7 linked regions of the Homo sapiens genome follow. The protein of the gene in region 7 purifies or fractionates together with the protein of the main gene of each other region. This does not show direct contact. Each region holds a gene or a part of one and is shown on either strand. Other genes may lie near its edges.

Region 1 (3,500 bases), on a different chromosome or scaffold from region 7:
CATGCCTGGGAGGGCTGGCTACAATGGGCTTCTCGCCATGCAGCTCCTGGCTCCTTTCCCTCGATGGGGAAGGGTGAGCAGCCCACCATGGAGCACTGTGGAATGGCTGAGTCTGCACAGAGCGGGAGGGGAAGTGAGGTGCGCAGAGCCATGTGTAGGCGGCAGCTGTTCGATTGGTTTAAAAGACAGTTTTGCTCTGGGTAACTGCGCACACAAACCCCCACAGATGGCCGAGGGTTGCACTCCAGGTGGCTGTGTCTGCAGGGACAGGGATGGACATAGTCTGTGGGGCCCAGGCCTTATCTGAAAAGCATCCCCCATCCTCTCTGTATCAGCTCAGCAATTGAGGGCATAATTAAAAATGAAACAGCTATCCAGATGCTAGCACAGGATGTCTGCCTAAGTGGGCAAGCACTTGGCTACCCGGTCCCCTAGCTCAGCCTCAGGGCGACTCAGGCTCACCAGACAAGACTTGTTGCAGCCACGTTCTCTGTCCTTGTGACCACAGCCATCAGGGAAGCGACAGGGCTCCTGGTCTCCAGTGTTCTCCCCGAGTGCTAAGACCTTGGGGCCCTTGCAGTGCTTTCAGAGCTGGCCGGACTTCCCCGCAGGGTTTGCTCCCACCTTCCCCAGTGGCTGTCCCCTGGGCTCAGCTGCTTTTGTTCTTTATCTGCTCCAAACTCCTCTGACCAGGAGCACGCCTGCTGAGGTAACTGGGGATTTCTGCAAGTGCACTCCGCATTGGCCAGCCACTCCCGACTCAGGCTGCTGACCCTGGGCCTGGGTCTGGCCAGTCCAGTTGGGAGTGTCCCACTGACGGTGGGGTTGTCCGTCCTTCTCCCCCACAGGCCGGTCAGTACGGCGTGGCCCAGACTAGGAGGCGGGCCATCATCCTGGCCGCGGCCCCTGGAGAGAAGCTCCCTCTGTTCCCGGAGCCACTGCACGTGTTTGCTCCCCGGGCCTGCCAGCTGAGCGTGGTGGTGGATGACAAGAAGTTTGTGAGCAACATAACCAGGTAGGTGGCCCCCGTCGCTCCTCCACACACTGCCGAGCAGGCCTCAGTAGCTCATGGGGCCCGTGAGTACTCCCTGGTGAGGCTTGGGGAGGAGAGGATGGTACAGCATCTGCCCTGCCACACGGTGCTCTGCCACATGGCACTCTGCCACCTGTGGTCTCCAGTTCTGACCCTGCATCATCTGCTTCCCTAGTAGATAGCATGTGCAGAGCGGCCAGCCGCATGCTTGGCTGTGGTCATCCACAAAGCCCACGCCATAGCCCCATCCCCCCTTCCAGATGGCATCCAGGCACACTGCCACCCATGTGACCTCGGGCAGTGCTGTGATCTCGGGAGAAGGCCATCTGAGCAGGCAGGGGGTGGCACCTGTGATGAGGGGACAGCTGCTGCGTGCATCTCCAGAGGTGTTGACCTCCTCCTCTGTTGCAGGTTGAGCTCGGGTCCTTTCCGGACCATCACGGTGCGAGACACGATGTCCGACCTGCCGGAGGTGCGGAATGGAGCCTCGGCACTGGAGATCTCCTACAACGGGGAGCCTCAGTCCTGGTTCCAGAGGCAGCTCCGGGGCGCACAGTACCAGCCCATCCTCAGGGACCACATCTGTAAGGTAATGGCACCCTGACAGAGCGGCTCCTCCTCGAGGCCCAGCCCAGCAGCCTCGTGGGAACAGTCAGCCTGCCCAAGACTCAGGGGAGACATGGAATCTGATCCCAGGCTCCTCCTCCCGAGTCCTCAGCCTTTGTGTGACCCCTGGTCTCTCTTGCATGGTCATGGGAAGTGTCAGAGCTCCCGCAGTCCTGGACTTGGTCTGGAATGGTGTCAAGCCACTGCCCACCCACCACTGCCTTCCCCCTTGCTGCCTCTCCCCGCATGTTTTCCCAGGATGCCAAGACCAGCCCTTTCACCATCCCCTGGCACCACTCCCCTTCCCCCACCCTAAAGGCTCAGCTTAGATTCCCACGCTCTCCTACACCTGCGCTGCCTCAGGTCCCTGCCGTGGCCTCGAGCCAAGTGCGATATCCCTGACTGTCTCTTTCCCGATGGGCGTGAGCCCCAGGGGGCTTCCTGGTCACCATGGTGTTCCCAGCTCCCAGCCCACCATGGATGCTCGGATGCTGCTCACATGAGGTGACAGCTGGGCCCCCCACACTCTTTCAGGACATGAGTGCATTGGTGGCTGCCCGCATGCGGCACATCCCCTTGGCCCCAGGGTCAGACTGGCGCGATCTGCCCAACATCGAGGTGCGGCTCTCAGACGGCACCATGGCCAGGAAGCTGCGGTATACCCACCATGACAGGAAGAACGGCCGCAGCAGCTCTGGGGCCCTCCGTGGGGTCTGCTCCTGCGTGGAAGGTGGGTCCTGTAAGTTGTGGTTCCCGGTGGGCTGAGGGGAAGGAAGGCAGAGCCCTGGGCCTTTGGCCTGTGAACCTGGAGGCCAGGGCAGGGCACAGACACACCAAGCCTGGGTGTCCCAGAGAAGGTAGCTGCTGACCATGTTGAGTAGTAAAAGCAGGCTGGGTTCATGGCCCACACCTATAATCCCAGCACTTTGGGAAACCAAGGCGGGAGGATCACTTGAGCCTGGGAGGTTGAGGAGGCTACAGTGAGCTGTGATTGTGCCATTGCACTCCAGCCTGGGAGACAGAGTGAGACCCTGTCTCTAAAAAGAAAAAAAAAAAACAATAAATAAATAATAAAAGCAGGTCAGGCACGATGGCTCACCTCTGTAATCCCAGCACTTTGGGAGGCCAAGGCAGGCAGATCACTTGAGATCAGGAGCTCGAGATCAGCCTGCCCAACATGGTGAAACCCCATCTCTATTAAAACTACAAAAATTAGCCGGGCGTGGTGTCGCACGCCTATAATCCCAGCTATTTGGGAGGCTGAGGCAGGAGAATCGCTTGAACCCCATAGGCAGAGGTTGCAGTGAGCCAAGATCATGCCATTGCACTCCAGCCTGGGCAACAGAGCGAGACATATAATACTAATAATAAAAACAGTGCCCAGAGAACGAGGATTGTTGGCTGCTCCACCCCAGGGGGCCCCTTGCACAGGAGGTGCCATCTCTGCCTCCCAAAGCTCTAAGAGCCACTGTCCCAAGCCTATACCCCATCCCACAACTGCAGCCTCATCACTGTCCTGTCTTCCAGCCGGCAAAGCCTGCGACCCCGCAGCCAGGCAGTTCAACACCCTCATCCCCTGGTGCCTGCCCCACACCGGGAACCGGCACAACCACTGGGCTGGCCTCTATGGAAGGCTCGAGTGGGACGGCTTCTTCAGCACAACCGTCACCAACCCCGAGCCCATGGGCAAGCAGGTAGGTGGGGAGGGGGCATCCGAGGGCCTGGGTCAGGCCCTGTACTTGGCGGCCTAACTAGGTGGAAGTGTGGGTTTAGCCAAGTGGGGGACAGCACCCCAGGACCCCAGGCACCTGGCCTCTGCCTCCTGCCCCTCCACGTCCACGGGACAAGCTCATAGGCCAAG
Region 2 (3,500 bases), on a different chromosome or scaffold from region 7:
AGAGAAAACACAACAATTCTTTCTTTCCAAATGAGAATCTCTTTGGTTTCTTATTAGCCATGTGACTCTCTTGGCTCTCCTTTGCCATGACCATTTGGATCTTTTGGAGTATATAACTTTCTGTGCTTTTCTACTCTTAAAGGAAACTGGTGGTGACAAAAGAGAAAGAGAAGAAAGTGGGGCTGTATACGATCTATGTGAATCCTGCCAATACCCACCAGTTTGCAGTGGGTGGACGAGATCAGTTTGTAAGGTGAGTTTGTGGCTCTTTTGTGTCTTTGACAGTTTGTAAGACTGATGCATTGTATACTACCAGGTGCTCCTTTATGGAGAGTTACGAATTTTATAGGAATCCATTAACTATTATCTTGAATTTTTTACCGTTTTCCAAAAATCTTACACGCCTTTGGAGATGTTCTGTTCTCTAATGTAACAGTCTCTGAGGGGTGACTTTACATATTTTAGAGATTATCAAGTTTTAAAGAAGTTAGATGATGGTCAGGTGTAGTGGCTCACACCTGTAATCTCGACACTTTGGGAGGTGAGGCGGGTGGATCACCTAAGGACAGGAGTTTGGGACCAGCCTGGCCAACATGGCAAAACTCTGTCTCTAAAAAAAAAAATACAAAAATTAGCCAGGCATGGTGGTACATGCGTGTAGTCCCAGCTGCTCAAGAGGCTGAGGCAGGAGGATCACTTGAGCTCAGGAGTCAGAGGTTGCAATGAGCCAAGATTGTGCCACTGCACTCCAGCCTGAATGACAGAGCGAGACTCTGTCTCAAAAAAGAAAAGAAAAGAAGTTAGATGAATTGACCAAGGTCCTCACGTGGCAGCTAAGCCATAAATTTAGGTTTACCAGCAAGTACTATATTAGTAAATAATCTACCTTTTTCGTATGTAAATAAACGTGCACTAGAAATTTTAAATACTGGTTTTCAATTCAGAAATAGTTTGACTTGGGAGCACTTAGTGTGAACTGAGGGTTTTTTGGCTCTCACTGTCCTGAGCTACCACTTTTTTTTATCCATAGTGATATCTTTGTTACCGTGAACACCTTTTGTTAACACTGGCTCTTGAGACATGACCTAAGGAAAACAGACACTGTGGATTCAGTCTCCATATGTATTAGTTAATTTCCTCTGACCCTTAGTAATAAGCTGTATCCATCCCTATCCAGTTGGCCTATTTTAACTATGTTTCTTTGGGCTCATCAGTTTGAAAGGAGAGAGAGGGGCAAGATCACTAGAAAAATGAGTGACTTTTTGCTTTCCTAATGGTAAGTGAAAAGCATCATCTTCCTTTTGAAATGAGAGCACATTTTATAGCTATATTTCCAGATTCATTTTATTAATAAGAATCATGGGGAATAGGGTAAATTTTTAGAAAATACATGAGATGACTTTGCCTTGTTCAAGAATCCTGGACAAAACCTTGTTTCTCTCTTCTTCCCCTATTCCCATGCCTTCAAAATTCGTTTCCTCTAGTCACCAACAGTCCTTAAATGTGTAGCCATAGATTTTTTTTTTTAGACAGAGTTTTACTCTTATTACCCATGCTGGAGTGCAGTGACACAATCTTGGCTCACTGCAACCTCCGCTTCCCGGGTTCAAGCGATTCTCCTGCCTCAGCCTCCCGAGTAGCTGGGATTACAGGTGCACGCCACCACGCCTGGCTAATTTTTTGTATTTTCAGTAGAACCGAGGTCTCACCGTGTTAGCCAGGCTAGTCTCGAACTCCTGACCTCAGGTGATCTGCCCGCCTTGGCCTCCCAAAGTGCTGGGATTGCAGGCATGAGCCACTGTGCCTGGCCAATTTTTTTTATTTTTAAATAAGAAGCTGTTGATCAAAAAGGGTTGTAGTTTGTATAGATTTTCAGTTGCTACCTCCTCCAAGTTGAGCATTCACTGAAATTTTGAGTTGAGAGTTCCTACTTAGAGCTCCAGATTACTTGAAAAGTCTGTGTCTCTAACAAATTCCACCACTAGGACCAAGATGTTTGGAGGGGAATGTAGTAGTTTGCTGTATTGAGAACTGTATTCATATGTATGTATGTATTCATATGTATTCATATGATATGTATATCATATTGCCTTAACCCAAAGCTGATACTTTCCCAGGGTTAGAGTAAGGCTTAGAGTTTTAGCATTTCAACACAAGGAGAAATACTCAAATCTTCTGTGTCTTATCAGCCTCAATATTCCTCTATTGGCTATTTACTGGGCAGAAGTTATGTGAAGATTTTTGTTTTTTTTTTGAGACAGAGTCTCACTTTGTTGCCCAGGCTGGAGTGTAGTGGCTCGATCTCGGCTCACTGCAACCTCTGCCTCCTGGGTTCAAGTGATTCTCATGCCTCAGCCTCCCAAGTAGCTGGGATTACAGGCATGTGCCACTTTGCCTGGCTATTTTTGTATTTTTAGTAGAGATACGGTTTTGCCATGTTGGCCAGGCTGGTCTCGAACTGTCTTCAAGTGATCCACCCACCTCGGCCTCTCAAAGTGCTGGGATTACAGTCGTGAGCCACCGCGCCTGGCTATGTGAAGATTTTGAGGCACGCTGATCCTACACAAGCAGGTAGCCCTTTCAGCACTCCAGCTCTTCTCTGACATTAGGTTACACTCAACTTCTCTGGCACCTCTCCTGTGCAGCCAACTGAATGTTTTGAGGTTTCTCCTTTCTTATTCTTCCTTTGAAAGAACCCAAACAGCTCATCTTCTGGTATAAATTTGAAAACATTTTTGCTGAATATTATATATCATAACATCATTAACTTTCACTCCTAGCCTAAAGGAATTACTTCAAGGGAATATAGAGAAATAGCTTACTGATCCTCAAGGCTTTTGCATCATTAATACTGAATTTTAGTTTAGGGTTATTAAAAAGTATTTAAGGGAAGCTCTGGGGAGACATGCTTTTTGGCCTGTGGCCAAAAAAAAAAAAAAGGTAAGTAGAGGAGGTATAGGTGTGAGTCCCTACTACACCTGCTAAGCTAAGCTAATTCCTGCTTAGCTTAGTTTTAAGAATTTATAGGGGTAAAGAAAAAGAGAATATATCAGGTGAATCCTTTAGTGGTAAATTTGGCTGACATGAAAATTTATTGCTAAAGGATTAAGTATAGGCCCTGATTGATGAAGCACAGTCAGTAAATCATCTCTTCATTCCCCAGTTCTTAAGCCAACATCAGCAACACTGAGAGAACATTAGATTAAAGGCAGGTATAGAAGAGAGACTTAGGGTAACAAGTTAGTGGGTGCCTGAAGGCATGTGGGAAGAGATGTGGTAAAGGTGTGCACACTATTCCTTACGTGACTTAAAATGTCAAGGGGCTTGGTGTGGTGGCTCATGACTATAAAACTAGAGCACTTTGGAAGGCCAAAGCTGGAGGATAGCTTGAGGTCAGAAGTTCAAGGCCAACTTGGGCAATATAGCAAGACTGTGTCTCTACCAAAAAAAAAAAAAATTAAGAAAAAATTTTAATTTTTTAATTAATTAAATATCTCCAG
Region 3 (3,500 bases), on a different chromosome or scaffold from region 7:
CCCGGCTAATTTTGAAAAAATATTTTACAGAGATGAATTCTTGTTGTGTAGCCCAGACTGGTCTGGAATTCCTGGGCTCAAGTGATCTGCCTGCCTTGGCCTGCCAAAGTGCTGGGATTAAAGGCGTAAGCCACTGTGCCTAGCCCAAAATAATTCTTTGTGAGCTATAATTTGGGACTTTTGAGGTAGTGACTGCTTTGAAATATAATTATGGAAGTCTAGGGAAGTTTAAAATTAGCTTTTTGTTGTTGTTGTTCTTCATTTTGTTTTGAGACGTGGTCTTGCTCTGTTGCCCAGGCTGGAGTGCAGTGGTGCCATCTTGGCTCACTGCAGCCTCTGGATCCTAGGCTCAAGTGATCTTCCTGCCTCAGCCTCTTGAGTAGCTGGGACTACAAGTGTGTGCCACCATGCTGGACTAATTTTTAATTTTTTTGGTAGAGATGAGGTCTTGCTACATTGCCCAGGCTGGTCTTGAACTCCTGGCCTCAAGTGATCCTCCTGCTTTGGTCTTCCAAAGTGCTGGGATTATGGGCATGAGCCACTGTGCCTGGACTAAAATTCTATTTTATTTTATTTTATTTTTAAAGAGATGAGGTCTCACTATGTTGCCCAGGCAGATCTTGAACTCCTGAGCTCAAGTGTTCCTCCTGCCTCTGCCTCCCAAAGTGGTAGGATTATAGACGTGAGCCACCATGCCTGGGCTAAAATTATCTTTGATCCTTAGGTATGATATATCTTTTAATTTCTTGCTAAAAAATCTATCACATGAATAAAGATACAAAAACTGCCTAGAAAGACTGCCTAGCTAAATAGGAAAGCCCTCTAAATTAATCAGTTCAGATACAAGCCAATGAGAAGTTTAAACAACCTTAACAAAAATAAAAAGATTTTTATGTCAGAGGCAGGAAAGGAGCTTAAGAATTTTGAAGACCATTTGGTCCTCTTTGGTGCAATAGGGTAATAAAAATAAAAACCAAGATAATAATTTACTTCACACCCTCTCTCACTGTGTTGCCCAGGCTTGTTTCAAACTCCTGGGCTCAAGCAATCTTCCTGCCACAGCCTCCCAAAGTGCTGCAATTACAGACATGAGCTACTGCACCCAGCCCCCTGCTCTTTTATAAATGCAGAGGATATTAAAGACTTCATTGTCAAGTTATACATTATCATAGAAGCTAAAAATCACAAGATTTTTGAAAGTGTTAAGGTTGAATTTAAAGATCTTTTGTCTAGATAGCATAATTGTTTCAAATTCTTACTATCAGATAATTATTGAGTTGCTATTTGAGTCACCATATTGTGGAGGAGTATATATATTATCCCTGTCAAAATAAGCTGGTGTCACGTAGCTACTACTTATTAAAGTAGTAGGAATGTTGAAGAGCTAAAAATGAAGTAATTTGTATGGGGTAGGTTTTCTTTCCGGAAAAAAATGAATTATTTCTTATCAATTACTTAGAGATCATTTTGGGAGGGTGGTGAGGGAGAATATTAAGTGGTAGATGCAGTAAGTATCAAAACACTTAAACTACATTAACTCTGTTTATTCTCACAGAAACCCTCTGAGGTGGGAACCATAATTATCTGCATTTTATAGATTATAGAAGGTCACAGAACAAGTTAAAGGGGAAGCTGGAATTTAAGCCTAGCCAGTATTGTTCTAGATTCTGCACATTTAACCTGATACTCTATTGCTAAGCTTAAGGAGATAGATTTGCCATATAAAATGATTCTTAATAGTGGTTTTCTTTCCCCACAGGTGTAGATTTGGAAAATGGTACTTGCAGTCATCCATTAATTCCTGATAAAGCCTCTCCTCTTTTACCTGCAAATCATGTGACCATGGCAAAAGGAACGGGATTGGTTCACACAGCCCCAGCTCATGGTATGGAAGACTACGGTGTAGCGTCTCAGCACAACCTGCCCATGGTACTGTTCCTCTTTTATCATTTTTAATTATTCATCTTAATAAAAGGAAATGATAAATTCTAACCAACATCTTCATTTTTTAAAAATGATGACTTTTGTCATCATAATTGTGAAATGCTCAGGTTTGTGTAGTACTCTAAAGTTTCATTAATTCGTACTAATTGAAAAAGATTTCCCAGAATTAATAGAAAATTAGCACTTTAGAATTGAAGAATATATATCATGGGGCACTTTTAAAATACTTTTTTTCTAGTATCAAGTCACATAGACAAATTACTTTTATTCCCTGAAAAAGCCTGTTTGTTTTAGCTAAACAGTCCTTTCTACATTTACTTTACATACTTCAGTTACTTAGCAAGTATTTCCGTTTAGTTAAAAGGTGAGTCAGAAAGGGAACAACTGTGTATATAGGCATAGATTTGGAAACAATAGAGACCACTCAAAGATGTTTTAATATATTTTGTTACTTTTGTTATTAAAGTTTATGGATATGCTTCAATAACACATTTTGGCTTTGGTGATTTAAATGTATAAAATTCACAAATTCCTATTTCCTTTTCTTTTCTTTTCTTTTTTTTTTTTTTTGAGAGGGAGTCTTGCTCTGTCGCCCAGGCTGGAGTGCAGTGGTGTGGTATGATCTCGGCTCACTGCAACCTCTACCTCCAGGGTTCAAGCGATTCTCCTGCCTCAGCCTCCCGAGTAGCTGGGACTACAGGTGCACACCACCATGCCTGGCTAATTTTTGTATTTTTAGTGGAAGTGGGTTTCACCATGTTGGCCAGGCTAGTCTCAAATTCCTGACCTCAAGTGATCTGCCCACCTCGACCTCCCAAAGTGCTGGGATTATAGGCCTGAGTGCCGCGCCCGGCCAAGTACCTAGAATTTCAATGTAGAAAAAGACCAGGCTATACTGAGATGTTTTTATATATATTGTTTTGCCAGATATTGTCATAAGAGAAAATGTCTTGATATTTTAATTGTTCAAAATGATACTTTATAGGATTGTCTAGTGGACGAAGATGGAGTTTTCACAGATGTTGCAGGTCCTGAACTTCAAAACAAGGCTGTCCTTGAAGAGGGAACTGATGTGGGTGAGCATCATATCTGTTGATATCATACATGTTTTCTGAAAAGTAGGTAGCAGTAACCTTTGCTACCTATTTTCCCTCCTTATACTTTAACAGAAACAAAAAAATAAATTATGTCTTGTTTTGCCATATGTTTTAAAATGGAGTTTGGGACTTTTTCATCTTTTGCTTTGAAGCTGCTTTATTTAAGCAAGTCAGGGCAGTCAACAGGGAGTGAAGTTATTTTAGGGCTATGGAGATAATAATCAGCAGTATTACTTTTGTGGAAGGATACAATCAAGATCAGGGCTGGATGTTGACTGTAAATTACACATTCCCTACTCACTTTTTAACCCTTGTAAATAACTGACCTATATGGCATGATTTATGTATTAGAATCTTGGGAATCCTCCAGCCTTGAATTGTCTTTCTGTCTTCCTTTACAGATTCAGAGACCAAGTGCTATGAAAACCTTTCTTTGCCCACACTAAGACTAAGGCTATT
Region 4 (3,500 bases), on a different chromosome or scaffold from region 7:
AATGTCAGTGTCTGGATTAACAGTGTATAGTTTATGGAAGATATTCTTTCCTCCTTTTTAAGAGTGAGGCGCCATTTGCTTCTCCCAAGTTTTCTGGACTCTGCTGTTTTCCATGATTTCTCAGGTTGTGAAGTCTTACTTGTAACTTGATACTAATATCTGTAATTTGGGTATCAAACATGAATGTATTAGAAGTAGCCTGATATTCACTGTTTTCTTGCCTGGAAGTTTGGGTCATCTTCTATAGTTGTTCAACTTCAGTTGTTTGAAAAACGTGAATGTTCTGAAAAAATGTGACATTTTTCAAAAGACACAGGCCAATTCTGAGTTGAGTATCTCTGGTTTCCTTTGGTCACCTTGAAAGTGCACTGTGTTCCCCGAAAGCTTGACTTTTTCCTTCTTTCTTTTAATTTTTAACATAATTACGGCAAAGTCCTTTGATTGTCTTTAGTACTTTTCCTGAAGCTGAACTGCTCCCCGCTGTAGTTTTTCTACTACACATTCATGTTCAGTTCACATTCTTGTTTTTATGCTACTTTCATATTTGAAAATGACTCAAAAGAGCCCACAGTGACGACACTGACTTCTTTACCTTCGCTGCTCATTTACCATAGAAATTGCTTCCAGTTCTATATTTCTCTCATAAGCCAGGGTTCTTTTTGAGTTGCCAGGCTTGATTGTTAAATCATACCTATTTTTCCTGACATTTTGTTTTTATTTCTGCTTTCTTAAGATTTAGGATACATGTTTGAGTTCATCGTGTCCCCTTCTGTGACTGTTAATCATTCTAACAAAGCTACTTGGAAATGATACCAGGTTTCCATCACTTTCAAGTCCCGACAAATTCACCCTTATTTCTGCTTTGTTGTCAAGAGGGATTCAGAAGAATTAACACACCCTTGAGTAGAAAATGATTTGTACCTTTCACTTTCCAAAGGGAATCTTTCATCAGTAAATAATTTCCACATGTGGAGTTGAGTTTTGCTGCCACATTTCACACACAGGGATCTGTGTGTGCTCCATGGTGCTTTGACTTCTAAAAGCAATTATGAGAGAAGAGCAGATTTCTTTAAACATGCCAACCACCGTCTTTAAAAATACAAATGTAAAATGAACTGCAAATGGCAAAGTCTGCCCTTGCTTTGTGCAGAGAGGAGTATGTTAAATGTGTTGTTGTTCCTGAGAAATGCTTTGTTTTATCATGCAGCCCATTGCAAAATAACGTACTGTCAAGAGTTCAGTTTAACATAAGCTTTTCCCCTTGCTGTCTTTGAAGAGTTTTGTTGTTGTTGTTGTGGTGGTGGTTTTCTGTTTGTTTTTGTAGACACCCAGTCTTGCTGTGTTGCCCAGACTGGTTTTGAATTCCTGGCCTTGAGCGATCCTCCCACCTCCGCCACCCAAGCGCTGGGATTACAGGCGTGAGCCGTAGCACCCGGCCTAGAGTTATTTTAAATTACAAAAGTAATACATGTTCTTTGTACAGAGTTCAAATAGTACAGAAACATATAAAGTAAAAAGTGAAGGGAAGGTCCAATTCTCCCCTCCAGGAGGGCGCCACCCTCGATGGTTGTCTGTCACGGCACTGAACTGAAAGGCTTTCGTTGTCTCCTCCCTGTGTTCACCTTTCCATCTCCGTCGAACTTTGCTTGTCCCCTGTTCATCTTTTTTTTTTTTTTGTGAGACAGAGCCTTGTCTGTTGCCCAGACTGGAGTGCAGTGGCACCATCTCGGCTCACTGCACCCTCCGCCTCTCAGGTTCAAGCAGTTCTCCTGCTTCAGCCTCCCAAGTAGCTGGGATTACAGGTGTGCACCACCACGCCTGGCTAATTTTTGTATTTTTAGTAGAGGCGGGGTTTCACCATGTTGGTCAGCGTGGTCTCAAACTCCTGACCTCAAATGATCTGCGCACCTTGGCCTCCCAAAGTGCTGGGATTACAGGCTTGAGCCACCACGCCCAGCCATCCTCTGTCCATCTTACAACTCATTAAGTATTTTTACTAGAGTGGAAACTGCAGTTATATACTTCTGAGCGTTTCTATTATTTTGTCAGGAAGAGGCAAACAGAGATGATAGACAAAGCAACACAACCAAGTTTGGACATTCCAGTTTCGACCAGGCTGAAATTTCCCACAGTGAATCCGAACATCTCCCAGCTAGGGATTCTCCTTCACTTAGTGAAAATCCCACAACGGATGAAGATGACAGTGAGTATGAGGACTGTCCAGAGGAGGAGGAAGACGACTGGCAGACGTGCTCAGAAGAAGACGGTCCCAAGGAAGAGGACTGCAGCCAGGACTGGAAGGAAAGCTCTACTGCAGATTCTGAGGCTCGGAGCAGGAAAACCCCACAGAAGAGGCAGATACACAATTTTAGCCATCTGGTATCCAAGCAGGAGTTACTGGAGCTCTTTAAGGAGCTACACACTGGGAGAAAGGTGAAAGATGGGCAACTTACGGTCGGACTGGTAAGATGACATATGTCATAACATTGTTACCACGTGATTGTCTTTAATCCCCATTTTTCAGTAGCTGCACGACCCCAAAGACCAACCAGGCTTCCGGCATCGTAGGGAACATTGCCCTCTTGTTGCCCACTGGCATCACGGGATTAGGCAGTGGGATAGACAGAGCCCAACTCAAAGGAATCAACTTCCTCAAGGCCTGTGTTGGTAACATACCTATTCACATTGAATGTATTCTCCAGTCTCCTTTCAGTTCAGCTTTTCCTGCCGTGTGAAGTACCAAGACAGCAGAATGAGAGAGATGTTAATGTTGTCTTCAGACTTCAGCCCAGTGTTCTTTGGGCACCCTGTGATCCTTGCCAGCTTATGCTGTAAATGTTCCAGATGCTTAATAGGGAGAATCCCAGCATCTTGGGGCTGGACGAAATATGACAAATGCATTAGTTGCATAAACACTGCATAGTAGATAGGGGAAAGCAGATCCCATCCCCAGCCTTACATACCCTAATTCCAGAAGTGGCTGCGGAAGTGCGCAAACCCCGAGGGGCTACGACATGGCTCTAGATGGCCCCATCCTTAGCTAAGGAGATGTGAGATGTTAGAGAAGGTATTGATTATAAAGACCTATCCAGAATATAACAGTGAGGGAAAGGAGGTCATGGCATGTTTAAAGTCTCCCAGCTTTTCAGTTACATGCTAAGTGTAGCTAATCCTAGTTAGTTTTGAGCCCCCTTCTCTCTGCCCCAACCCCCTGCCCCAAAATGCCTGTTTAAAATGACTACAGTAGATTAGCATCTTATTTTAGTGCAGTAGTTAAAAGAGCTGTCTGTGGAATCAGACAGACCTAGGTGTAATTCCCAATTCAGCAGTAGAACTAACTTGTTAGGAACACGGGGAAAGTTGCTTAATGTCTCTGAGCTTTAAAGCTTCATTCTCTATATTGTTGCTAAAAATTTGTATCAGAAAGTTCAGCTTCTCTACAAGTTTTCTCACATTTATGGAAAAACTGAGCATCCTCCCTCATTTTCTGAATTTCTTAC
Region 5 (3,500 bases), on a different chromosome or scaffold from region 7:
AAAATATCATTTAACTGTTATGGGTAGGAACGTGTTCCTGAAGTTCATGTATTAGAAACCTAATCCCTAAAGCAACGAAGATGGGAGGTGGGGCCTATCAAGAGATGATTAGGTCTTAAGGGTTCTGCCCTCATAAATGGGTTAATGTCGTTACTGTAGGAGTGGGTTAGTTATCAAGAGAGTTGGCTTATTATAAGCGTGAATTGAGCTCTTAAGTGTGTCCTTCTGTCATCAGATGATGTTGCAAGGAGGTTCTCACCAGATGCAGCCCCTCCATTCTGAACTTCAGGTATCCTGTTATAGTAGTACAAAATGGACTAAGAAAATATCAGAAATTTCCAACGTGAACTAGGCATAGTAAATGGCTAATCACAAACTACTAGACAATAATAAAATCCTCAAAAAAAAAAAAAAAAACCAAACCAAACCAAAACAAAACCATTACATTGGCCAGAAATTAACACCTTACCCATCAATAAGGATCTTAGTTATACCACATGGTAGAGCCATACAACTAAACAGTACACTGACATGCAACAAAAGGAAATCTAAATCTGTATGTACTGAGGAAGAATGAGGCATACGATACACAGAAAGAAAGCAGCAGAGTACATATAATCTGATTTCACTTTTAGAAAACTGGCTTCTCCTCTAAAAAAGATGCCTGTATGTTTTCCCAAGCACGCACAGAAAAGCTTTTGGAAGGATACAAAGAATGGGATGTGAAGAGGAAGTGTTCCCCCATCCATGTATGTATATTATTTTGTAGAGTTTTCTGTGTAATGATCTTGAGCCATCCTGCTCCCCTAATCTGAAAGTAGGGATACACTGGGAAGTAATTTGTAATAGTAGTAAACACCATGTGTTGTCTTAACAAGTGAGACTTGGGTCCCAGTACTAGATGTGCTATCAGTACTAGCTATGCTAACCTTGGGTATATCTCTCTTTCTGCAGTTTTCTTGCCTATTCAAGGTTGTTGGAAATGTTAAATATGACTTTATTCTTACTTATGATTAAACAGACTTTGATATGCATGCAAAGTCCTTGGCCTAGTGCCTGGCACATTAGGCACTCTAAATAGAATGTTAGTTACAGGAAACTGAAGAGGCAACAGAGAAATTAGCATTATCTAACCAAATGAAGAACACAGCCCAGACTGATAATGTCTGTTCTTAACTGCTTTAATCATAGTTATTAGAAATCCCAACACTTTGAACTAGAGTAGTGGCTCTAAACTGGGGTTGATTTTGTTCCCCCAGGAGATAACGGTTGTCACAACTGTGTTTGTGCTGCTGGCATCTTTGGGTAGAGGCCAGGGATGCTGCTTAACATCCCACAACGTGCAGGACAGCCTCCGCAACAAAGAATTACATGCATGATGTGGCATTCACATGTAGAAAAAAAAAAAGAATTATGTGGCCCAAAATGCCAATAGTGCCAAGGCTGAGAAACCCTGAACTAGAGCAGTAGAGGTTTAAAATCCAGCAAACAAGCAAGCAAAATCAGAACACAGGTGTTTAGGTTCATCCCCAATTAGGAAGCGTGGGCCAGAATGCTAGCTCCACAGGTGATATGATTTGCAGCTAAGGTTGGAAATTAACATATTTTAAGAAGCATATTTCATAAATTTTGACTATAACAAAGCAACTTATAATAAATTTGAATATAATAAAGCAACTTATATTATTTTAGAATTACCTATGATAGCCAATTTTCATGCAAATTACCAGACAGAAAACACTCATGTTAGAAAAACCAAAAAAGCTTGTGGCAATGTTCTTACAGTATTAAAACAAACAGCCTTTTGAGAAATGGTAGTTTAAGAATATAATAATGATAAAATAAGAGCAGGTCCACCAGGAAAATGCAAACCAAAACCACAAAATACCACTTCACGTCCACTAGAATGACTATAATAATAAAGAGATAATAAAGCAAGTGAGCATGTGAAGAAACTGGAACCCTCCAGACAATGCTGCTAGGAAAGCAGAATGGTGCAGTCACTTTGGAAAACATCCTGGTTATTTCTCAAAAGGTTAAACATACAGTTACCATATGACCCCAACAATCCTTCTCCTGAGTGTTTACCCAAGAGAACTGAATACACATTGGGCCAGACACAGTGGCTTACGCCTGTAATCCTAGCACTTTGGGAGGGCAAGGCGGGTGGATCGCTTGAGCCCAACAGTTCAAGACCAGCCTGGGCAACATGGCAAAACTGTCTCTACCAAAAAAAAAAAAACAAAAATTCATCCAGGTGTATTGGTGAGCACCTGTAGTCCCAGCTACTTGGGGAGCTGAGGTGGGAGGATCACCAGAGCCCAGGGAGGTCAAGGCTGCGGTGGGCCATGACTGCGCCACTGCATAATCATGCTAGCCTGGGTGACAGAGACCCTGCCTCAAAACAAAAAAACAAACAAACAAACAAAAAAAGTCTACACACAAAAATTATACATGAGTATTTATAGCATCACAACTCAACAGCTACAAAAAGAGAAACACAAATGTCCACCAACCAATGAATGGAGAATATGTGGCATATTACAATGAAATATTATTTCACAATACAAGTGAATGCTACAAAATGAACCGTGAAAACTTTATGCTAAGTTAAAGAAGATGGTCACAAAGGACAATGCATTGTATGACTCCATTTACATGAAATGTCTAGAATAGGCAAACCCAGAGACAGAATATTGACTAGTAGTTGCCCAGAGCCAGTGAACAATAGGGAGTTACTGCTAAAGGGTATGGGTGATGAAAACATAGTCTACAACTGATTGTGGTAATGGTTGAACAGCTCTCTGAATATACTAAAAACCAATGAAATGTATACTTTAATGGGTAGTAAACTGTACAGTAGATGAATTATACCCCAATAAAGTTATCATCAAAGTAGGCAACTGTGCTTTTCCCTTTCTGACTTACTTAGATTCCAGTCAGAAATTGTATCATCATCATCAATTTCATCATCATCATCATCTTCCTCTTCAATTCCATCTTCATCATGCTGCTGAGCCACCGTCCTCGATCGGTGAAAACGTGGCCGTATATCCTGTTCACTATCAGGAATCGTTTCGTCTTCTTCAACATCACCCTGTTGTTTTTTTAAGAGAAATTTTTGGTGGCATTCATTATAGGCTAATAGTATGTACATGAGTAAGAGAAACAGAATATCCAGAGATGGGGTCATGCACAGAATTCTGAAATATACTTCCAGAGTGATTAAGAACCACGCCCATGTACAGAACATATTCCTTATGGAGGGGCGAATAGACTGACCTAACACACCTGTTAGGTTATACGGCCCTTTCAGCCAACTACATGGCCTCCACTGGCTGGTATAATCTAAGTTACCTGAATCAAATTCAGAGCAGCATATATAAGAATGTTTTTAAAATAACTCCAAGTAATTAAGGGGAAATTAATAATAACCCTACCAATGTCACCATCTAGTACCAAATTAAGCAAGAATTTATCATTACTTAAACTTATGCTTC
Region 6 (3,500 bases), on a different chromosome or scaffold from region 7:
CCAGGAGGCAGAGCTTGAAGTGAGCTGAGATTGCGCCACTGCACTCCAGCCTGGGTGACAGAGCGAGATTCCGTCTCCAAAAAAAAAAAAAAAGTTGTAATATGTCAGAGGAAGTGGGAGTTTCCACGTACTAGAATTTTGGGGGCTGCTTTATTCAGCAAATATATTGAATAGTTGATGTGTTCAAGCTATTGGGCTGGAGACATAAAGATAATTGTGAACTCTTCCCTCAAGGAGTTCAGAGTCAGGAAAATGGACATATTTTCAAATTAGTACAATAATATTGTAGTTACCATGGTAGAAATACGTACTAGGATACTTTTATTTTGATAAAGTGCTCTTGATCTTCCATCTCTTCTCTCCTTTAGGTTTTAGTTACCACCTGTAGACAGATTTACTGAACATATCTGTCTCCTACTTTCAGATTTGTACTAAATACCCTCACCTAGATGTTTTATCAGGTCTCAGATTTAATATTGCAAAACCAAATTTATTGTCTTTTTTACTACTTTCCTTTCTGCTCGCATTTCCCTGTTTATCCCAATTTCCCAGGCTTAAAACATCAGGATTATCTTTGATTCCTGGCACTCTACTGTGCCCTAGGTCAAGTCACTTGCCAAATTTTTTCAGTTCTGTCTTGGCAGTGCCTTTTAGTTCTCACTGCCACTACCCACCTTCTCTTTGATTAACCTTCCTGTATCATATCATTCAACCATTCAGACACTTTCAGTGATTCCCCATCATTTACAAAACAAAGTACAGGCTTCTTTTGGGTCTTTTGGGTCCTCTAGATCTGACCCTAACTGGCCTTTCCAAATGTGCTCCTGATTATTCTCCACATACTTCAGCCAAACTTAAATAATCACCGGTCATCAGACATTAATTTATTTTTCAACATCTCTGCTTTGGTTTTGTTTTTTTTGCATCACTGAGGATCTTCATCCTCTACGTTTACCTGTCTTTTCAAAACCTGGCTCATATGCTACCACTGTCCTCACACCTTTTCACATTTTCCCTTTCAAGAATGTTATACCCGTTTCCTTCTTGAAATAGTAATGTATCATTTATGGTACTGTCAGTTGACTTTGGTTCACAGTAGATTTATTCGGCATCTACTGCATGCTAGACCCTGTGCTAGGAGTTAATACCCCGACTGCAAAGAAGTAAAGTACCTACCATTAAGCTGCCCTCAGTCTAACCCTCCACGTGCAGTAACAGAAAGTACATGCAAGGCAAGAGAGTGAACTCATGTCAGATATGGTCAACTTGTGGGGTGAGAGAAACCTTCATATGCATGTCTGTTGGTAGAGCAGGGCCTTTTAGGTAGAGGGAACAACATATGCAAAGAAGCAGAGACACAGAATAGCATAGTGCGTTGGAGTAGTTTAGTATTGCTTCAGCATGGAAGTTAGGGGAGGGATGGTAGAGAGATTGTGGGGGATAAGTCAGGAGACTAAAGTAGGGATGGAGCACAAAGAGCCTTTTATACTCTGCTAAGAAGTATGGACTTTTTTTCTGTGAGTAGTGCTAAGCCATTGAGTTTTAAGAATAGCAGTGACATAGTGTTAAAACATAAGATCACTCTGGCAGCTCTGTCGAGTGGAGTAGTTAGAGGAGTGGAGTTGGCGACACAGGACAAGAGGGGGAGCTTTTATAACAGTTCAGGCAAGAAATAAAAGCCTGAACAGTTAGGTTGAGTATGTAGATATTTGGGTATATCCTATCACTGGTTCTAGACCAGGAATCCAGCCAACTACCAGTTTTTATAAATAAAGGGCTTTTTTGGAACAGTACACATTAATTTGTGTACTGTCTATGGCTGCCTGCATGCTACAGTGGCAGAGTTGAGTATTTGCAATAGGGGCTGCATGGCCCACAAAGCCTATTTTAGTGCTTTTATTTTAGGTACTATCTGCCACTTTACAGAAGTTTGCTGGCCCTTGTTCTAGACTTTAAATCCTTATCTTATTCACCTCAGAGTCTCCCATAGTACCCCAGATAGATCTAAATAATGAGCACATGGTAGGTGTCCAGTAAATTATTTTTCTTTTTTTTTTTTTGAAACAGAGTCTTACTCTGTCGCCCAGGCTGGAGTGCAGTGGCACAGTCTTCGCTCACTGCAACCTCTGCCTCCTGGGTTCAAGTGATTCTCCTGCCTCAGCCTCCCAAGTAGCTGGGACTACAGGCATGTGCCACCACGCCCAGCTAATTTTTTGTATCTTTAGTAGAGATGGGTTTTCACCATGTTGGCCAGGCTGGTCTCAAACCCCTGACCTCGTGATCCGCCCGCCTCAGCCTCCCAAAATGTTGGGATTACAGGTGTGAGCCACCATGCCCAGCCAATATTTTTTAAATGAGTAAACTTACGTAACTATTCTGAATCACGCTCTATCCATAAGTCATAATTTCCCTACATAATAGAGGTGGATTTGTTCTAGCTCAAGAATGCCAAAGGTTTGGATGGTGTGGGAATATTGTATTGGGTCTTTATATAATGGATCCATTCAGGGACTATGTTTTTATTCTTCCTTGTTTGTTTGTTTTGAGACGGAGTCTCACTCTGTCGCCCAGGCTGGAGTGCAGTGGTGCAATCTCGGCTCACTGCAAGCTCCACCTTCCAGGTTCAGCCATTCTCCTGCCTCAGCCTCCCAAGTAGCTGGGACTACAGGCACCCACCATCACGCCTGGCTAAGTTTTTGTATTTTTAGTTGAGATGGGATCACCGTGTTAGCCAGGATGGTCTCGATCTCCTGACCTCGTGATCCGCCTGCCTCGGCCTCCCAAAGTTTTGGGATTACAGGCGTGAGCCACCATGCCCGGCCATGCTATACTGTTTTAATAAGAAGAGATGGCAACTTCAAGAAAAATGATGTAAACAGTGTGAAAACTGGTCCCTACCATACTGATCTTTCATCTCAGACCACATGGGTGCATCTTGATGTAATCCACAGTAACTAGTTTACTAGTTGTCATATTTTTCATATGTGTTGGCCATGGAATTTTTCTCTTATTTAGTCATCTGTCATTTTAACTACAATAATCCTATCCCAAAATTTCACTTTAAGCCGTTGTCTCAGTAAGAAACATGCTTTCTTCAAGCATATATTGGGTTTATCTACATATGAGGCAATGAGGGATGGTGGGAAGATCGCAGATATCGTAGTCAGAAGGTGTGGTTATGCATTATATTTCTTCCACCTTTTTGTTTCTGACCTGTCAAGGGGAGACACTACCTATCTAATCAGATTTTTATGAGAATGAAAGCAAATACTTTATATAAAAGTGCCTTGTAAACTCTATAAATGCTAGTTATCTCCATTTTTTTAATTGGCTGATTTGAGAGGATATCAGTACTTTTCAATATATGAATTTCTGATTTTTATTGACTCTTTGTAGTTACACATTTTCTAATTGTAAAGCTAAAATGTTTGTCACCCTTGTACATAATATATTATCCTTCTGATTTGCAAGTAAGCAGTAGTGCAAATAGTTCATGTTTC
Region 7 (3,500 bases):
TTTTGGTGGTCTTATTATTCTTATTCCATTGTAGACAACCTATTGTTTTGGTTTTCTTTTGTTGTTTGGGTTTTGGGGTTTTACATTTTGGTGGTGGTGGCTTTTATTTTTAGCTCTGAAAGTTTGTAGGATTTTCTCTTTCTTACTGATGTTCTGGAATTTCACAAGAATTCTTAGTGAGCCCTAACTTATTTGAAAATGGTCTTTAGTTCTGTAAGATTTTCTTACAGTTTTTTCTTTTATTATTTCTTCCTTTCATTGTCTCTCTTTTCTGCTTCTGGAACTCTGAACAGAGAGATGAGAAAGATGTTGGACCTGATAAAAAGATGTCTGTCCTCTATGTCTCTTACCATTTTATCTCTTATTTTCCATCTCCTTATCTTTCTTTGCTCTTCATTCTACAGTATTTTCACAGCTTATTTTCCAGATCACCAGGTTGGCCTTTAGCAATGTCTATTCTGTTTTTCATCTATCCACCGAATTCTTCACATCAGCATTTTTTTTTTTTTTTTGGAGACAGAGCCTAGTAGTGCGGTTGCGCAATCTCGGCTCACTGCAACTTCTGCCTCCTGAGTTTAAGTGATTTTCCTACCTCAGCTTCCTAAGTAGTTGGGATTGCAGGCACTCGTCACTATTCCCAGCTAATTTTTGTATTTTTAGTGGAGATGGAGTTTCACCATGTTGGCCAGGCTGGTCTTGAGCTTCTGACCTCAAGTGATCCACCCACCTCAACCTCCCAAATTGCTGGGATTATAGGCGTGAGCCACTGCGCCCGGCCAACGTTAGTAATTTTCTAACTTCCAAGGATTCTTTCTTGTTTCTTTTTTCTGGCAACCCATTTTTTAATTAATGTGGTATCCTTTTGAATATTTCTAAAGCCATTAATTAGCATTTGGCCAAATTCTCTTCTGCTTCCTAATTTATCTCCTTTTCCTAAAGTCAGTTGTTATGTGTTCATATTGGTTCTTTTTTTCCCCTCCATGATAATTGGGTTTGCTCAAATGTCCAGTGATCCTTGGTTGTTGATTCATATTTATGATGACTAAATTGACTAATAGAAGTAATGTTCTTGACTTTTCTTCAGCAGTTTGGTAGGGTTGCTTCAACAGCTTAATTGAATGACAGTGTTGACAGTGGGCTGTAAATAACATAGGTGGGTTTGTTAACAGGCATGTCTTTCAGAGCAAGGAGACTAGAAGGCAGCATTGGTACCTGGAGAGTCCAGGAGAGGTTGAGCACCGTGTATATTTTACTCCTTGGCATAGCTTCTCACCTCCCTAGGCTTCTGGGTTCTGAAATGGGATCTGCTGGTATGCCTCTTTGGTTCTCTTAGTACCTACCACCCAAAATAAGATGCGTATCAGAAAAAGAGGCATATGGTTCTCTTTCTCAGCCTGAGGGCATGACAGGTACCTGGCCTCTTATGCTCTATATGAGTAGAGTAGGAATGATCTGTTTATATTGTTCTGGTTTAATAAGTTTCGCTGATTTTTTTATTGTTGTTGACTCTGAATTTAGTGTTCTTGTTTTCCTGAAAAGGGTTTCTTTTTTTCTCTGATGTTTGAAGCTGCTGGGATTTTTCTGTACATGCAAATTTTACCTAGGATTTCTTTAAACTTTCTGGTTTGCTATTTATCCCATTTCTTGTTTTCTAGGCCTATTAAGGGTGTTTTAAAATTTACAGTGTCTTTACTCATTTCAAAGGCACTTCGGAAAGCAAAAGATCTTTATGATTCAGTCTGCTCTTTTGAACAAGTGCCCTTTTGCTTGTTTTTTTGTTTTTTTTTTAAATTAATGTATTAATGTATATTATTGACTCAGCCAATGTCTAATTACCCTTAAATTTTTTTCTGGGGGAGAAAACCCATCCTTCTTCTTTTTTTTTTGAGGCTTTGAATTTTCTATTTGTGAATCTGTCCTTTTATTTGAATATAATTTTTTAAATTGCATTTATTTTGTTTTATGATCAAGTGAAATTTATGGAAAAATATACTAATTAAATCATCCTTTGTTAGCTTTAAATCAAATAGATTATTGTACATAATAAAGTTTATAGTTTATGATAAATGTATTCTTTTAAAACTATGGGATGATCCAGTTCTTCTCTAGTTGTCTGGAGGACTTTTGTGTTTCAGGCTATTGAGTGAATGAATTAGCTAATGAATACTTTGGTTTAACTTAGCAAAGGAGACACAAAATAATCTAACATGGCACTATAGCATTTATTGCTAATTTTAGAAGGAAAATGATTTTGATTTCTGTCATTTATATATACAATATTTTATGAATGGGATAGTACAAAATAATCATTTGTAAGGTCCAGGATGTGTTTCTGTTTTCAGAAAAAAAGGACCATTTACTCCATCTATTTGATGGTATACTTGTTCCTTACAGTAATCTCATTTTTTGGATCTAAACATTTTCTTTGACCTACCACAGTGTTGTCAGAAAATGGTTCTGCAGTGGCTTATACCTGTAAGTCCTAATATAATGCAATGTGGGTATATTATTTTCAAGCTTAAAAGGACCTTTCAGTTTTATTAGTGGGGAGGAGTACAGAGTTACAATTTTGTGCTTTCTCATGACATAGATATTAATTCAAACATAATAATGGATTAAAATACTGTGATAACAGTTTTGTTCTATTTAAAGTTATATAAGACCTAAATTTTCTAGAAGTTTAGGAAGCATGATTTTCTCTGAAGAAATGTGTAAATACAGTTGACCCTTGAACAACCTGGGTTTGAACTGCACAGGTCCACTTAATCATGATTTTAAAAAATAAACTCAATGAGCCCTCCATGTCTGCAATGAAATGTAGATCAAAAATGTAGTATTCATGGGATGCAAAACTCACCTATGCTGAGGCCAACTTTTTGTATCTGTGGTTTCTGTAGGGCTGACCGTGGTGCCTGAGTGCAGATTTTAGTATGAGTGGTCCTGGAACCAGTCACCCACAGATACTGAGGGTTGAATGTATTTTAGTAGTGTGTAACATAGCAATTTTTTGTTTTCTCTTTGTATACTTTTCTGCACCCAGCCCCACATGTTAAGTCTCTATTCTCAAAATGGTCTAGATCTTTTTGGAAGGGTTGTGTTGATTATATGTATATACAGATTGACTTACTCGTAATAAAATCAGTGTTCATATGAACTTCTTCCCGACACTAGATTTTTGGCAGCCTTTTCTGAAACTCTATGTCTACCTGGGCAAAACTGAAAGTGAAAAAATTGCTCAGATACCAATACCTGCTTTTAAGATTAATGAGCTTGGTGACTATAGTGGGAATGACAGTTTATGAAACATGATAAATTTATCTTTTTTATTATGCTGGCTCCAAATTTTAGAGCTCCCTAAGGTAAATAAAGACTCATTGAAATATTTTTTTCCTGAATAAAGAATTATTCTATGTAGTAGTTCAGGCATGATTTAAAAACAAAAGTAGGAGCAAATATTTGGTGATACTTCTGTTTTGTTATGACTAAATCAACTAATTACC

The links.
Region 1: the proteins of DNAJC15 (region 7) and DNMT1 purify together in Homo sapiens (affinity purification with mass spectrometry, with the first as the bait; one large-scale study listed by BioGRID). This does not show direct contact.
Region 2: the proteins of DNAJC15 (region 7) and DCAF8 purify together in Homo sapiens (affinity purification with mass spectrometry, with the first as the bait; one large-scale study listed by BioGRID). This does not show direct contact.
Region 3: the proteins of DNAJC15 (region 7) and IARS2 purify together in Homo sapiens (affinity purification with mass spectrometry, with the first as the bait; one large-scale study listed by BioGRID). This does not show direct contact.
Region 4: the proteins of DNAJC15 (region 7) and LSG1 purify together in Homo sapiens (affinity purification with mass spectrometry, with the first as the bait; one large-scale study listed by BioGRID). This does not show direct contact.
Region 5: the proteins of DNAJC15 (region 7) and TNPO1 purify together in Homo sapiens (affinity purification with mass spectrometry, with the first as the bait; one large-scale study listed by BioGRID). This does not show direct contact.
Region 6: the proteins of DNAJC15 (region 7) and NSF purify together in Homo sapiens (affinity purification with mass spectrometry, with the first as the bait; one large-scale study listed by BioGRID). This does not show direct contact.

Annotation. Positions count from the first base shown.
Region 1 is NC_000019.10:10,135,954-10,139,453, reverse strand, and holds part of DNMT1 (DNA (cytosine-5)-methyltransferase 1), read left to right. Parts: intron 1-848; coding exon 849-1,015; intron 1,016-1,444; coding exon 1,445-1,622; intron 1,623-2,173; coding exon 2,174-2,369; coding exon of another isoform or gene 2,370-2,378; intron 2,379-3,166; coding exon 3,167-3,333; intron 3,334-3,500. UniProt on the Homo sapiens protein: Methylates CpG residues. Preferentially methylates hemimethylated DNA. Associates with DNA replication sites in S phase maintaining the methylation pattern in the newly synthesized strand, that is essential for epigenetic inheritance.
Region 2 is NC_000001.11:160,228,050-160,231,549, reverse strand, and holds part of DCAF8 (DDB1- and CUL4-associated factor 8), read left to right. Parts: intron 1-142; coding exon 143-253; intron 254-3,500. UniProt on the Homo sapiens protein: May function as a substrate receptor for CUL4-DDB1 E3 ubiquitin-protein ligase complex.
Region 3 is NC_000001.11:220,104,132-220,107,631, forward strand, and holds part of IARS2 (isoleucine--tRNA ligase, mitochondrial precursor), read left to right. Parts: intron 1-1,759; coding exon 1,760-1,929; intron 1,930-2,929; coding exon 2,930-3,020; intron 3,021-3,500.
Region 4 is NC_000003.12:194,651,692-194,655,191, reverse strand, and holds part of LSG1 (large subunit GTPase 1 homolog), read left to right. Parts: intron 1-2,049; coding exon 2,050-2,463; intron 2,464-3,500. UniProt on the Homo sapiens protein: Functions as a GTPase. May act by mediating the release of NMD3 from the 60S ribosomal subunit after export into the cytoplasm during the 60S ribosomal subunit maturation.
Region 5 is NC_000005.10:72,882,661-72,886,160, reverse strand, and holds part of TNPO1 (transportin-1), read right to left. Parts: intron 3,098-3,500; coding exon 2,929-3,097; intron 1-2,928. UniProt on the Homo sapiens protein: Functions in nuclear protein import as nuclear transport receptor. Serves as receptor for nuclear localization signals (NLS) in cargo substrates.
Region 6 is NC_000017.11:46,695,169-46,698,668, forward strand, and holds part of NSF (vesicle-fusing ATPase), read left to right. Parts: intron 1-3,500.
Region 7 is NC_000013.11:43,072,086-43,075,585, forward strand, and holds part of DNAJC15 (dnaJ homolog subfamily C member 15), read left to right. Parts: intron 1-3,500. UniProt on the Homo sapiens protein: Negative regulator of the mitochondrial respiratory chain. Prevents mitochondrial hyperpolarization state and restricts mitochondrial generation of ATP. Acts as an import component of the TIM23 translocase complex. Stimulates the ATPase activity of HSPA9.